Homo sapiens: one gene and its partner. The protein of the gene in region 1 interacts with the protein of each later gene in a pairwise test. Each region holds a gene or a part of one and is shown on either strand. Other genes may lie near its edges.

The links.
Region 2: the proteins of MS4A14 (region 1) and SEC22A interact in binary tests that used the Homo sapiens proteins (3 or more experiments, as listed by UniProt).

The regions. Positions count from the first base shown.
Region 1 is NC_000011.10:60,399,403-60,403,228, forward strand, and holds part of MS4A14 (membrane-spanning 4-domains subfamily A member 14), read left to right. Parts: intron 1-1,001; coding exon 1,002-1,052; intron 1,053-3,509; coding exon 3,510-3,659; intron 3,660-3,826. UniProt on the Homo sapiens protein: May be involved in signal transduction as a component of a multimeric receptor complex.
Region 2 is NC_000003.12:123,239,780-123,243,605, forward strand, and holds part of SEC22A (vesicle-trafficking protein SEC22a), read left to right. Parts: intron 1-3,826. UniProt on the Homo sapiens protein: May be involved in vesicle transport between the ER and the Golgi complex.

The DNA of each region.
Region 1 (3,826 bases):
GAATCTATCGTGATGGCATAAAATGAGGCTATAAAGGTAGGGTGTAACCAGGTCGTGCCAACCCCTATAGTCATGTTAAGAAAATGGAACTTCAATGTGAAAGCATGGGAAAGCCACTGAACGTTTTTAAAGAGGATAGTGACACTTGAAGACTTGTTGAAGTATCATTGTGTTTTTAGAGTGAGAAATTAATTCAATTATAACAGTAAACCTAGGAGAATCCAATGAGAGGAGGCTACAAACACACAGATGAGGAAAGAGTTTCCCGAACTAGCTTGGTGGCAATGGAGCTAGAGATGGAGAGCCTTGAGAGTGACTCGGAGGTAGAAGTGACAGGACTTGGCAATCCAATGTGGGGAGTGAAGCGGAGGGAGGTATCAAAGGTAACTTTCTGATCTCTGCAAGTCAGCTGCAGATCCTTGGACTCTAAGACCCAGATGTCCCCAAGGTCCAAGGCCAGTTCCCACAGAGAAGGTTCCCATCCCCAGAACATTAAAAAAGTAAGGGACTCCACATGGAGTGACAGAGTTCTCATTTTCCTGAGGTGGTACTAGGCTCTACGATCATGGGAAATGAGGGACTCTGATAACTACACTAGATATCAGTCCCCATATCAGCCTTTAGAGGGGTCTTCCTTGAGAAAGTCTCCCTTCACCTGCTCAGAACAGGCACAGCTCCTCCTCTTCTCTTCAAGGCCCAGAGCTCAGGAATCTCTTTTTGGAGCCCCAGCCGGATCAAACATCTGGTCCTCTGGATCTTAGAGGAGCCTGCCTGTCCCAGTTGGCCCTGGCAGAGAGCGCTTGTTCAGTGCTGAGCAAATCCAGCACAAAGTTTCTTCCTACCCTACCTACGCCTACCTTCCCTACTCCCTGATGCTCAGGTGGAAAAACGGGATGGTCTTGGAGATTCACAAACAGATATTTTGCAAATCCAAGGGAAATTATACTGCAAGGTGGTCAAACACATCACCTGTTAACTTTTGTCTCTTGTCTTCTTAACAGTTTATTCTTACAGGATACCTCACAGTAACCGATAAGAAATCAAAACTTCTGGTAAGCCACTTAAACTACATAAAATTTAAAATCTTCTATTTGTTTTATATCATCTTTATGTATGAAGCCTTTAGTAATAAAGTTACCTTTCAGGAAAATCTGTATGCATCAAAGTTGCAGTTCAGATCATTCCTATTTGCCAGTGCCACTGTTTGCCTGACAGACATTCTTACACTTGTTCCCATTTCCCTGGTCAAGTAAACTAAAAGAGTTGTTTATTGGAAACCATTCTGCATCCCTGTAATTCATTGTTTGTAATTAGGGGTAATTCCCTGCCCTGCACCCCCCAGGACCCAGAAATATTGGACAACATCTGAAGACATTTTTGGTCATTACAACTGGTGTTATTGGCAACAAGTGAGTAGAGGCCAGGGACATTTCTAAGCATCTAAAATGCACAAGGCAGCCTCCCCCCAACACAAAAATTATCCAACAAAAAATGTTTATAGTACCAAGGTTGAGAAACCTTGCTCTAACCAAAACCAATCCTAAGCTCTCACTAATTCTTCCTCCCAATCCTAGCCCTATCTCCAATACCAACCGAGGCTTTTCTTTAGATCCTGCCCAAGGTCTGGAAGAAAGAGTTTGGGCATCAATGCTGGATTGTTCTAGGATTGAACCAAGGCTATCACTCACTTCTGTGTTAACCTGAAGGGAAAAGTGCCTACTTCTAAGGGTTATTTTGAGAGTTTAATGAGACATTACTGATAAAAGGCAAGATGATGCTTAAATGTTCATACTCCTTTCTAACCACTCTGATCTTGTTTAAGGTCCTGGGGATGTGGGCCTCTCTGAAAGTCAGTTGAACTCTGTTCTTATGGTCCTCTGCCAGTTTCCTCTAGGGATAGTTACAAGGCATAGAGACATTCTGAGGGGAGGGCAGATAAATGTTTCCATCCCTGCTTATGGAAATACATGCAGACAATGCAGATGAAGCCCCAAATGCTGTTCTCCCTGTATTGACTTCCTTCCAGAGCTGAGAAATAAACTATGGGTAAGGAAAACCTACTCCTGACTCACTGAGAGCTATGCAGATGGAGGTGTGCAGGAATGATGGAGGCAGGATGCTGAACCAGGCATCAGAAGACCTGGCTTTTCATCACAGCCCTTCCACAAACCGTGAAAGTGATTGCTCACAGTCACTTACTTCCTTAATTCCATTTATCTGTAAAATGTGGATAACAACAAGTGTCCTTCCTACAGCACAAAAGTATAATGAGAATCAGAAGAGACTAGGCTGGGCATGTTCTTTGTAAAGCCCAATACACATGAGGGATTGATTATCTAGAGATCTTAGTCTATAAAATGTCCTATGGGAGCCAAAATAGAGCCTTGAGAAAACAAGGGGACTAAAGACCAAGAGAGAGATGGCCTATCTATATGTTCCTGTGCATTTTCTGCCAAAGTGCCTATTTGCAATAAAAACCTGGGATTGAGGTAAACATTAAGTCACAAGTACACTTCTGAGGTTTGCCACACCAAGCCACAAACTTCCAGAAAGGACTGGCTGTGTAAAGGCATCATTGTATTTTCCACCACGGTAGTCATAACACAATCAATAAAGGTACAGCAAATACCTGATGAATGGAAATGTGAAGCTTTTCTTTGTTTTTCCTTTAAAAGAGTGATATCAGTCCTGGGAGTGGGTAAGAAGGAAGAAATCAGATGACCCCCTTCCTGTAAAGGAACTCGGATATACCTACCCCACCCACCCACACCCCCCTCCAAAAAAATAAGAATGAATAAAGGGAATTGGGTGGGGCAGTGTGAAATATTTTTATTGCAACAATGAGTTCAAGAAAAAACACCTTTAAACTCCAGTCCAAATAGGTTAACATCTTTAAATGTTAACGATTCTGTTGATTATTGCTTGAATTCTCCCAGGGAATGACTGTAAACCACATGATTGCAGGATGTCACCTCTTTTGTTCATTTTTGTTTCTCCAGGGCCTAATGCAGTACTCACATGTATCTGGTGCACATTAAATATTTATGAAATAAATGAATAAATGGATACTACCCTAAAAGTTAGGTGACACATTCACATTTTTAAAGGCAGAAATTGAGATTCCAGGAGATTAGGTTACTTGCCTAAGGTCCTAGTGAAACTTGGACTTGAAATGAGGTTTCATTTCCAAGCAAAGATATTTGCTAACACATTGTACTGCTTCCAGATTATGAAAGATGGTGGTGATAAAATGAGATAAAATGGGATAAAATGAACATTTTCTTTAGCATTAGCCATAGAGCATCCTTAGCCCATTCTAAAACTTGGTTTGTCTTCTGACTTTAATGAGTTAGAATTTAGTTTATTAAGCCTTCCAATCATACTGACCTGATGGAACAACTCTTCCCTGAGAAGTATCTGGAAAGATAAAAGCACTAAAAATTTCTTACAAGATATTTTTGCTTTGGTTTCGATCTTATTTATTTTATCATTTTTAAACTATCTTTCAGGGTCAAGGTGTCACGGGCATGAATGTTATCAGCTCCTTGGTTGCGATAACTGGGATTACTTTCACCATTCTCAGCTACAGACATCAAGACAAGTACTGCCAGATGCCATCCTTTGAAGAAATATGTGTTTTCAGTAGAACTCTTTTCATTGTAAGTGGTCTTATTTTGCATGAAGAATCCCTAAAATCTTCTCTGAACTGTGTCCATGATGTAATGATTCACTGATTTTTATTTTATTAAATGAAGTTGTGTCAGCATTTGAACTGACGGTTGAGAAGGGTACCATGGGGTTACTGTTACAATGGTTAAGGAGCGAT
Region 2 (3,826 bases), on another chromosome or scaffold:
CCTGTTCACTCTGATGGTAGTGTCTTTTGCTGTGCAGAAGCTCTTTAGTTTAATTAGATCCCATTTGTCAATTTTGGCTTTTGCTGCCATTGCATGCAAGAACTTTTATTGTGGTTTTGGTGGTAAGGAATGGGTGAGGCAGGGTAAGGAGGTTTTAAGATTGGCTAGTTTGAATAATTTCAATGGACTCTGGGGCATAGGTTCTATCTCTGGTTGTCTGACATGTGGCCCTGGGATGATTGGGATAGGGAAATAATGGCCCTGGCTGTGAGAGCCTTGTAGAGGAGTTGGTTGGTAGTGTGAGTCTGGATTGATTGGAATGCGTATGAAAGGTGGACTCAGACAAGTTGTTTGCCATCACTAGGAATTAGCTATCCCTGGGAGAGGCAGTTCTTCCATGGTCAGCAAGGCCCAAGAGGTCAAAGCATCAAAAATACAGAATAAAAAGACATGATTACTAAACACCCTTATCACAATATAGGACATTTCCATCTCCCCCGAAAAGTTTCTTTGTGTCCCTTTTCAGTCAATTTCCACCATCCTCTAGACAACGACTGTTTTTATTTTTTTCCACTTGAACTTTGTTTTGTTCCAGAACTTTATATAAAAGAAGACTACATTGTGTGACTATTGTGTTCAGCTTCTTTTGCACAGCATGATGTCATACATACATGTTGCCTGTCTCAGTAATTTGTTCCTTTTTATTCCTGAGCGGTATTCCATTGTATGAATGTACCACAATTTGTTTATTTATTCTCTTGCTGATGGACGTAAACTTGTTTCAGTTTTTGTTATTGCACATAAAGCTACGATGAACATTCATCCTTTTGTTGACATATATTTTCATTTCCCTTGAGTAAATATTAGGAGTGGAATTGATAGGTCAAAAGGTTGCCTGTTTAAGAAACTGCCAGTTTTCTGAAGTAGTTGTAAGATTTTACTTTCCCAACAAGCAATTTGTGAGCATTTTGATTACTCAACATCTTCACCGACATTTAGTGTTGTTAGTCTTTTTACTTTTATGTTGTGCTTTAAAAAAAAAACTTCACAAAACCCTAAATTTAGGGTTTAAACTGATAGAAACACTTCTGTCAGTTTCTTTGACACTTGTATATTTTTCATCTATTTTATCATTTTCTAGAAAATTTGTCAGTTGCCTGAAAATGCTGCTCTGTTTTGGCTGGTGCCCACAAGCCAAATAGATTTACTAATCTCTCTTTCTTACACACACACACACACACACACACACACACACACACACACATCCCCTTCATAATCCAACAGGTATTTATCATTTTTTTTCTCTAAAGTATTATGCTAAATTTTGTGGAGGCATTTTTTAGAAATACAGTAAACACATTAACTGTACTCAGAATGAGAAAGGGAAATACAATCCAATAAGTAAAACACAAAGTAGAATGTGATACATGCTCCAAAAGAGGTAAGAAGGAAGACTCAGGTCTTGGAGCCTTGAAGGATATGCATGATTTTTACAGGTGGTGATGATAAAGAAGGGCCTCACTGATGAAAAGAATAGTGTGTTTTTGTGCCAGACTGTTAGTCTCATTCAGTCACACTTCAGTAATAAATTAGGCTCATTTAGATGGAACTGACTTGAAATTTCTCTCTTATCTTCCACAGTCTGTTTCCCTAGGCATTGTGGGCATCTTTGAGATTTCGAATGGTACCATCTCTTTGAATCGTCATAAGGACTATTCTGGGACTTTGCTTCATCAATTATTTTTCCTTTTTCTTGATTCTTCTATTTCATCTTCACTGAATTATTTCATTCCACCTATGTATGTATTCAAGTCTTCCTCCCTCCCTCCAACACTGTAAGAGAAAAAAGAATTATTTTCTCAATCCTATTATCTCTGTTAAGCTTTCATCCTGTTTTTCTCTCCTTTAACTTCAGTAGTATTCACTTAATGCTTCCACCTCTTAACATCGCCAGTTGTTCAACCTCTTGCAATCTGAATTTGATAAGGAAAATGTGGTTCATATACACAATGGAGTACTGTTCATCCATGAAAAAGATGAGATCCAGTCATTCGCAACAGCATGGAGGGAACTGGAGATCATTAAGTAAAATAAGCCAGGCACAGAAAGACAAACATTGCATGTTCTCACTTATTTGTGAGATCTAAAAAGCCCTCAACCACTTTTCTGGAAAAAAAAAAAAAAATTTTAAGGAGAATCCTAGCATCTCCTGTTCAATAAGTCTAATACTTTTTACTTTAAGGTCAGATTTTTTTTGGCCTATCTATAGGCACTGTTAGCCATATCTTTCTTCTTGATGGTCTCTCCTTCCTAGGTTTCACTTGATTCTCCTGCATCTGCCTTCCCTGACTCTTCTTCCATCCCTTACTGACAGTGTTTACCAAGGATTTCCCTTGGCCTGCTTCTTTCTTTGACGCTCATTTAAACCTTTCCCTTCAGTTGCAGACCTCGTCTGCTTCTCCCAGCTATTCCATTCTTCAGTTGCTTGTTAAACACGGCCCACCATCACCTCAAATATGATGTTAAAATGTCCCCATTTTTTATCAAACTTAAGTTTCTTCCTGTGGATCTGTTGCTCAGTACTCTCATCTTTCCGATCACCTAGAGGTAAAACCTCAACATTTCTTTGAATTTTTTTCCCCCTTTTGTTTGCCACATCTAATTAGTTGCCAAGTCTAATAATTTTAACCTCCATGACATCTTACTTCTTTTTCCCCATTTCTTTTTTTTTTTTAATTTTAGCTTTATTCTTTAATGAACTCCCAAGCACTCAGATTCCCATTTCTACTGTGACTATTCTGATTCAGGCCCTGATTTCAGTCAGTCTTTTGCAGTGACTCTCCCACAAACTTCCTAATGTAGAACTGTAGAAAGAGCATGGGCTCTGCAGTCAGATAGACCTAAGTGCTAATTGTGAAGATGGCCCTTCTGGCTGTCTGACTTATAGAAAATAATTTAATCTTAATTGACAGATGAGAAAGTTTAGGCACAGAAAAGTTAGTCATTCCAGTTCAGTCACAGAGAAGTTAGTCATTTCTACCTCATGAAGTATGCCATTCTGAAGGGTAAATGAGACAATGGGTGCTTAGTGAGAAGGTACTCAGAAAAATATTATTTCTCCCTCCCTTACTTTTGATCTCTTTACAACCCATTAATAGATTAATCTTCTTTAAGTATAACCTTCATCATATGAGAATCTTGTTCTTCAGTGGTTCCCCATTGTCTAATTTTCCATAATTCTTAGCCTAGAATTGTATACTATCAATTTGTGTCCACCTCCCTTTCTGACCTTATTTCTCCCCACTTGTCACAAACATCGCTTTGAGCCAAACCAAACCACTAGCAATGCCCTATAGCAGAATGGCTGAGAACATGAATTCCAGAATCATCTAAATCCCAGTTCACGTACTTACTTTGTGCCCATGAGCAAATTATTTAATGTCCCTAAACCTTTCCTATTCTGGGAGGGGTGGGGAGGGGGCGGGGTGGGGCAGAAAACCAGGATAATTATAGTGCCTACTGCATTGGGTTGTTGGAAGGATACAGTGAGACCAAGTATATAAAGCACTTGGTGCCTGGCGTGTTGAGAGCAGTCACTGTTGGTAGAAGTAGTAGTTGTTGATGCTGTTGTTACTCGTTTCTCCCATTTCCATCTCCATCACATTCACATTCTTTTCTCTGCGTGGAATGCATTTCTTCCCCTTTGTACCTGACTACATTTTATCTATCTTCAAAGCTCTTTCCTGGTTCTAGACCACCCTCCCCCTACTTTATCTTTCCACTTCATCATTCCTTGCCTCTTTTAGCTTAGAATGCTTATTACTTT